Homo sapiens: one gene and its partner. The protein of the gene in region 1 purifies or fractionates together with the protein of each later gene. This does not show direct contact. Each region holds a gene or a part of one and is shown on either strand. Other genes may lie near its edges.

Region 1 (4,130 bases):
TTGTGATTCTCTTTGCAATTGTGAGGAAAAAGATGGCACAATGCTAATAAATTGTGAAGCAAAAGGTATCAAGATGGTATCTGAAATAAGTGTGCCACCATCACGACCTTTCCAACTAAGCTTATTAAATAACGGCTTGACGATGCTTCACACAAATGACTTTTCTGGGCTTACCAATGCTATTTCAATACACCTTGGATTTAACAATATTGCAGATATTGAGATAGGTGCATTTAATGGCCTTGGCCTCCTGAAACAACTTCATATCAATCACAATTCTTTAGAAATTCTTAAAGAGGATACTTTCCATGGACTGGAAAACCTGGAATTCCTGCAAGCAGATAACAATTTTATCACAGTGATTGAACCAAGTGCCTTTAGCAAGCTCAACAGACTCAAAGTGTTAATTTTAAATGACAATGCTATTGAGAGTCTTCCTCCAAACATCTTCCGATTTGTTCCTTTAACCCATCTAGATCTTCGTGGAAATCAATTACAAACATTGCCTTATGTTGGTTTTCTCGAACACATTGGCCGAATATTGGATCTTCAGTTGGAGGACAACAAATGGGCCTGCAATTGTGACTTATTGCAGTTAAAAACTTGGTTGGAGAACATGCCTCCACAGTCTATAATTGGTGATGTTGTCTGCAACAGCCCTCCATTTTTTAAAGGAAGTATACTCAGTAGACTAAAGAAGGAATCTATTTGCCCTACTCCACCAGTGTATGAAGAACATGAGGATCCTTCAGGATCATTACATCTGGCAGCAACATCTTCAATAAATGATAGTCGCATGTCAACTAAGACCACGTCCATTCTAAAACTACCCACCAAAGCACCAGGTTTGATACCTTATATTACAAAGCCATCCACTCAACTTCCAGGACCTTACTGCCCTATTCCTTGTAACTGCAAAGTCCTATCCCCATCAGGACTTCTAATACATTGTCAGGAGCGCAACATTGAAAGCTTATCAGATCTGAGACCTCCTCCGCAAAATCCTAGAAAGCTCATTCTAGCGGGAAATATTATTCACAGTTTAATGAAGTCTGATCTAGTGGAATATTTCACTTTGGAAATGCTTCACTTGGGAAACAATCGTATTGAAGTTCTTGAAGAAGGATCGTTTATGAACCTAACGAGATTACAAAAACTCTATCTAAATGGTAACCACCTGACCAAATTAAGTAAAGGCATGTTCCTTGGTCTCCATAATCTTGAATACTTATATCTTGAATACAATGCCATTAAGGAAATACTGCCAGGAACCTTTAATCCAATGCCTAAACTTAAAGTCCTGTATTTAAATAACAACCTCCTCCAAGTTTTACCACCACATATTTTTTCAGGGGTTCCTCTAACTAAGGTAAATCTTAAAACAAACCAGTTTACCCATCTACCTGTAAGTAATATTTTGGATGATCTTGATTTGCTAACCCAGATTGACCTTGAGGATAACCCCTGGGACTGCTCCTGTGACCTGGTTGGACTGCAGCAATGGATACAAAAGTTAAGCAAGAACACAGTGACAGATGACATCCTCTGCACTTCCCCCGGGCATCTCGACAAAAAGGAATTGAAAGCCCTAAATAGTGAAATTCTCTGTCCAGGTTTAGTAAATAACCCATCCATGCCAACACAGACTAGTTACCTTATGGTCACCACTCCTGCAACAACAACAAATACGGCTGATACTATTTTACGATCTCTTACGGACGCTGTGCCACTGTCTGTTCTAATATTGGGACTTCTGATTATGTTCATCACTATTGTTTTCTGTGCTGCAGGGATAGTGGTTCTTGTTCTTCACCGCAGGAGAAGATACAAAAAGAAACAAGTAGATGAGCAAATGAGAGACAACAGTCCTGTGCATCTTCAGTACAGCATGTATGGCCATAAAACCACTCATCACACTACTGAAAGACCCTCTGCCTCACTCTATGAACAGCACATGGTGAGCCCCATGGTTCATGTCTATAGAAGTCCATCCTTTGGTCCAAAGCATCTGGAAGAGGAAGAAGAGAGGAATGAGAAAGAAGGAAGTGATGCAAAACATCTCCAAAGAAGTCTTTTGGAACAGGAAAATCATTCACCACTCACAGGGTCAAATATGAAATACAAAACCACGAACCAATCAACAGAATTTTTATCCTTCCAAGATGCCAGCTCATTGTACAGAAACATTTTAGAAAAAGAAAGGGAACTTCAGCAACTGGGAATCACAGAATACCTAAGGAAAAACATTGCTCAGCTCCAGCCTGATATGGAGGCACATTATCCTGGAGCCCACGAAGAGCTGAAGTTAATGGAAACATTAATGTACTCACGTCCAAGGAAGGTATTAGTGGAACAGACAAAAAATGAGTATTTTGAACTTAAAGCTAATTTACATGCTGAACCTGACTATTTAGAAGTCCTGGAGCAGCAAACATAGATGGAGAGTTTGAGGGCTTTCGCAGAAATGCTGTGATTCTGTTTTAAGTCCATACCTTGTAAATAAGTGCCTTACGTGAGTGTGTCATCAATCAGAACCTAAGCACAGCAGTAAACTATGGGGAAAAAAAAAGAAGAAGAAAAAGAAACTCAGGGATCACTGGGAGAAGCCATGGCATTATCTTCAGGCAATTTAGTCTGTCCCAAATAAAATAAATCCTTGCATGTAAATCATTCAAGGATTATAGTAATATTTCATATACTGAAAAGTGTCTCATAGGAGTCCTCTTGCACATCTAAAAAGGCTGAACATTTAAGTATCCCGAATTTTCTTGAATTGCTTTCCCTATAGATTAATTACAATTGGATTTCATCATTTAAAAACCATACTTGTATATGTAGTTATAATATGTAAGGAATACATTGTTTATAACCAGTATGTACTTCAAAAATGTGTATTGTCAAACATACCTAACTTTCTTGCAATAAATGCAAAAGAAACTGGAACTTGACAATTATAAATAGTAATAGTGAAGAAAAAATAGAAAGGTTGCAATTATATAGGCCATGGGTGGCTCAAAACTTTGAACATTTGAGCTTAAACAAATGCCACTCTCATGCATTCTAAATTAAAAAGTTAAAATGATTAATAGTTCAGGTGGAAGAAATAAGCATACTTTTTGGGTTTTCTACACATTTTGTGTAGACAATTTTAATGTCAGTGCTGCTGTGAACTAAAGTATGTCATTTATGCTCAAAGTTTAATTCTTCTTCTTGGGATATTTTAAAAATGCTACTGAGATTCTGCTGTAAATATGACTAGAGAATATATTGGGTTTGCTTTATTTCATAGGCTTAATTCTTTGTAAATCTGAATGACCATAATAGAAATACATTTCTTGTGGCAAGTAATTCACAGTTGTAAAGTAAATAGGAAAAATTATTTTATTTTTATTGATGTACATTGATAGATGCCATAAATCAGTAGCAAAAGGCACTTCTAAAGGTAAGTGGTTTAAGTTGCCTCAAGAGAGGGACAATGTAGCTTTATTTTACAAGAAGGCATAGTTAGATTTCTATGAAATATTTATTCTGTACAGTTTTATATAGTTTTGGTTCACAAAAGTAATTATTCTTGGGTGCCTTTCAAGAAAATTAAAAATACTACTCACTACAATAAAACTAAAATGAAAACTCTTTTTTAAATGTGCTTTCTTAAATGCACGACAAGCTTTACTTGTCATGCAATCAAGTAAGGATTAACACACATACACACAAACATACAGACACACACACACACACACTGCAGGAGGTTTCTATTTGTTGTTTACACACAGAAGTATCTTGTTCATGTTGTGAAAAAGACTATTTGATTTTTGGTATGCTTAACAGGGAGCCAAATTTAAAGTATGTCTAGCAGTTTTCCCTTTCAAGCAAATCATTTTCTAATGCAACGTAAAAGGAAATGTTTTATTTCTATCGTTTCTAATTATAGAATCAATCATACCTGCACACTTTCACAAGGCAAAGTGAAATTAGTCAAGGTAATCTGGGAATGTTTTCTGAACACCACACAGAGTCATGTACTGGGCTATGAAGGAACACATTTTCCATAAGGAAGTACTCCCTTCAATTTACTCCACAATATTTCAGTGATTCTTAAATGGTCTATTAAATATTTTGGCTTTTAATAT
Region 2 (3,290 bases), on another chromosome or scaffold:
GCTGCAGAAGAGGAGCGGACGAAGCGCTAGGGAGAAGCCGGACCCCTACGGCGAGGGCAGCTTGGGGTGGGGGCGGGGCCATGTGTTTGGGGCGGGGCCTGGGCGGAGCCGACAGCGGAGGTGATGCTGCAGTCGGACTGCAAACCTGCGGCGGGCAGGTCCGTCTGTAAACCAGCGAACACCACAGCGCAGGGCCAGGGGCAAGCGCTGGATAATGTCCGCTTAGAGACTGACCTCAGCTGAGAAGTGGATGGGCTAATAGAGAGCAGGGCTGGGGCTGGACATTTACTTCTCAAACCTGGTGAGCACGTCGGCCACGAGGGTCCCCCCAGCCAGGGCTCGCTCCTGGGCCCCTCGCTGCTCGTACAGCGCGAATGCGTTGCGGCTCCGGGCCAAGCCCAGCCGCCCCACCAGCTCTCGAGCCACCTAGAAGAGGAGGGTGAGGGGAGACCACTCAGAGGTCTTGCCAGGATTCTGGGAGGGGTTGATTCAATTGGAAGGGGTCTCTTAGTCCTGTCACCACCACTCCCTCCCTTACCAAAATAATCTAGACTCGGGGCAAACCTAGGGTCCAGGAAGAGGGAGAGACAGGCGTGAGAAGCTGGCAGGGTGGGTTGGAGGTCATGGGGCCTTTCTCTGGCCTCACCTCCCCCGCCGTGGTGTGGGAGTCGATGGCCACAGCACAGGCACCAGCCCCCGGACAGTGCACGGTACACAGCAGCTCCTGCCGTTGGCTCAACGCGGAAATCTCCGCCAGCGAGGGCACCAGCTCTCTGCCGCGCGTCCGGCCCAGCGCTTTCCGGATGAAGCGCGCATATTCCGCCAGTTCCGAGTCCGGGAGTGCCTGCTCGGTCCTGGGTTAGGAGGAACCCAGGGATCAATACTCCAAGGGCTTTCTTCTCCCCCTCCCTCTTGCCTGCTTCTCTTATAGTTTATTTTATCTAGCCGATTTCCTCCCCGCCCCAACTCAAGTTCTTTGAAGGCTCTTCTAAATCTCTCCCCAGTGCTTTGCATAGAGCTGAATTACTTTTCAAGTCCCCTGGCAGCTTTCTCCCAACTGCCTCCACCACTTCCAAAAGTCTTCGTGATCTTCCTTCGGCCTGAAATCGAAATCCAGCCACTTTACTACATTTTCCTAAGCCCTGGCGCTGGCCTGCATCAGCTGGAGGAAAAGCAGCCTTTTCATAACTCCTCAGCCCAAGGGGGGCGTTTTATTGTAATTCATCCGCTCACAACTGCGATAGGATCTTGTATCTCCCACAAAGGCACTGTATGTATTACTCGGTTCTTTACCTACCAAGTCTTTTGCAAAAGACCTTTCATTCTCTCCCAGCCCGGTAGCTCCTCGCCTAGGCCGTAACCCCCACCTCGCCCCTCTCACCTCTCCAAGTGCCCCAGGAGGTGCCCCCGCACAGCTCCCCCAGGTCGGAAGGTGCAGCTCATGCAGGTGAGGAGTTGCCAGTACCGCAGGGCCGCAGGGTCTTGGGTAGCCGGGAGCCCGGGGGGACCTGCAGGGCCCGAGGTCTGCTTAGCCAGCTGCAGGAAGAGTTCATCCCGGAGCGCGGGCAAGTCCCGGCAGGTTTGGAGCACACCCTGCATCAAGGGCCCGGGGCGCCGCGCCCCCTCCAGCGCCTGCAGCGCCAAGAACAGCCGCACCGCCTCCTCGCGCAGGGGTGCATAGCCCGGACCTGTGGGAGGGTGGGGGCGGAGGGACGGTTTGGAGAGGGGACACAGAGCTGCGCCCTGGGAGGAAGGCATGAACCAGGGGAAGGTCAGAGGGAATATAAGGGGATGGGGTGGCAGGGAGGGGAGGGTACGAACGACAGGAAGAGTGAAGGGAAAGCAGTGGTCCCACGGAGCCAGACTCTCAACCTCTGCCTCCCAGGAATCCCCTTCCCAATCCCACTAAGCCTGCATTTGGACTTAGGGAGACGGACGGCCGGGAAGGGCTGTAGATTCACACCCCAGATTCTGTAACTCCATACTGAGGCTCACCACCATAGGTCAGAAAACAGGCTGGACTAGGAGTCAGAAAACCGGGGTTCCTCTCCCAGCACCCTTTAATCCTCTAACTTTAGGACCTGGGCCAGTCACTACACCGTTTAGGGAGAAGTACAGTTGGATGAGGCCAGCACATTCTACAAAAGTGGTAGCTTTTCTACCACTTGTAAAGGTAATATGGCATAGTCTCAAGAGGATAATGAAAAAATAGGGGAGTGTACAAACTCCTGAAGGAACATCAGTAGTCAGAATGAGACCCATAGAGAAGGTGGCCAAAGGGGGCCCTTTTGTGTGTGCTGGCTTCCTCTCCTCCACCCTGGCCAGCTTCCAGTTTCACCTTCATCCTTCGAAAAGTGAGGAGCTGGCAGGTCCATGAAGGATGCTTAGATCCCTGCCAGTTAAGGGATTCAGATTCTTACCTCTGAACCACCCCATCCCATCCAGGGGACTTGGGCCATGGGACCACTCACCTGGGGCGCTGACTCCATAGGGCAGGGGCAGGAGTGGGGCATACAAGGCTCCACTAGTGTGTCTCAGAATCGGGTTCCTCAGGTAAATGAGGGCAACGGCCTCTGGGTCCCCGCAACTTTCCTAGGGGGCCAGGGAGAGGGTCACCTTGATGGGGAAGGGAGTTCCTCACAACCCCAGAAAGCTTTGGGGTCCACCACTCTCCTGGCTCTCCCTGGTGTGTACCTGTATGTCCCTGAGCAGTAGCTGGGTGGGGGTCTCCAGGGGTGCCTTGGAGGCGATCACTTCCCGCAATGCCACCCCCCAGCGCTCAGCCTCTGCCTGGCGTGGGGAGCAGAGGCGGACACTGTGTTTCCGACCAGACACAGTCACTGACCACAGACCTGGGGAAAAGAGAGGCCAGGGAGGGCCATTAGGGTCTGCCGGGGCCCCTGCCTAGGAAGGTAGGAGAGTCCCCAGGAGGTCTCACCTGTCTCCTTACGCCTGCGCTCTGGGCCGGTCACCGAGCACAGGCTGGTGAGCACGAGGCTCCCGAGACGCCGCGCCCCTTTCCCGCTGCTGCTGAACTGATCCAGGGAGTCCCGCGTGAGCACAAACCAGGCTCGGCGCGGGGGCAGCCAGGGCCGCGCCCCTCCTCCGCGGGGCTCCCGGTACAGCCAACCTGGGGGCCGGAGAGGGAGGGAAGGGACATCAGTAGAGACATTAATCCCTAGGGGGTTGGGATTGGGGGCCTCCAGAGTGCACTGAGGGGGGTCTCTACCTTTCACAACGATGTCCGGGTCGTCCTCCGGCAGCCCTTTCTCCGGGATGAGGCTCCAAGT

Evidence for each region. The genes of interacting proteins can lie anywhere in the genome.
Region 2: the proteins of SLITRK6 (region 1) and PLEKHH3 purify together in Homo sapiens (affinity purification with mass spectrometry; one large-scale study listed by BioGRID and IntAct). This does not show direct contact.

Annotation. Positions count from the first base shown.
Region 1 is NC_000013.11:85,792,290-85,796,419, reverse strand, and holds the end of SLITRK6 (SLIT and NTRK-like protein 6 precursor), read left to right. Parts: coding exon 1-2,437; 3' UTR 2,438-3,630; downstream 3,631-4,130. UniProt on the Homo sapiens protein: Regulator of neurite outgrowth required for normal hearing and vision.
Region 2 is NC_000017.11:42,670,705-42,673,994, forward strand, and holds part of PLEKHH3 (pleckstrin homology domain-containing family H member 3 isoform 1 precursor), read right to left. Parts: coding exon 3,230-3,290; intron 3,131-3,229; coding exon 2,939-3,130; intron 2,853-2,938; coding exon 2,695-2,852; intron 2,593-2,694; coding exon 2,472-2,592; intron 1,689-2,471; coding exon 1,382-1,688; intron 855-1,381; coding exon 647-854; intron 427-646; coding exon 290-426; intron 2-289; coding exon 1-1.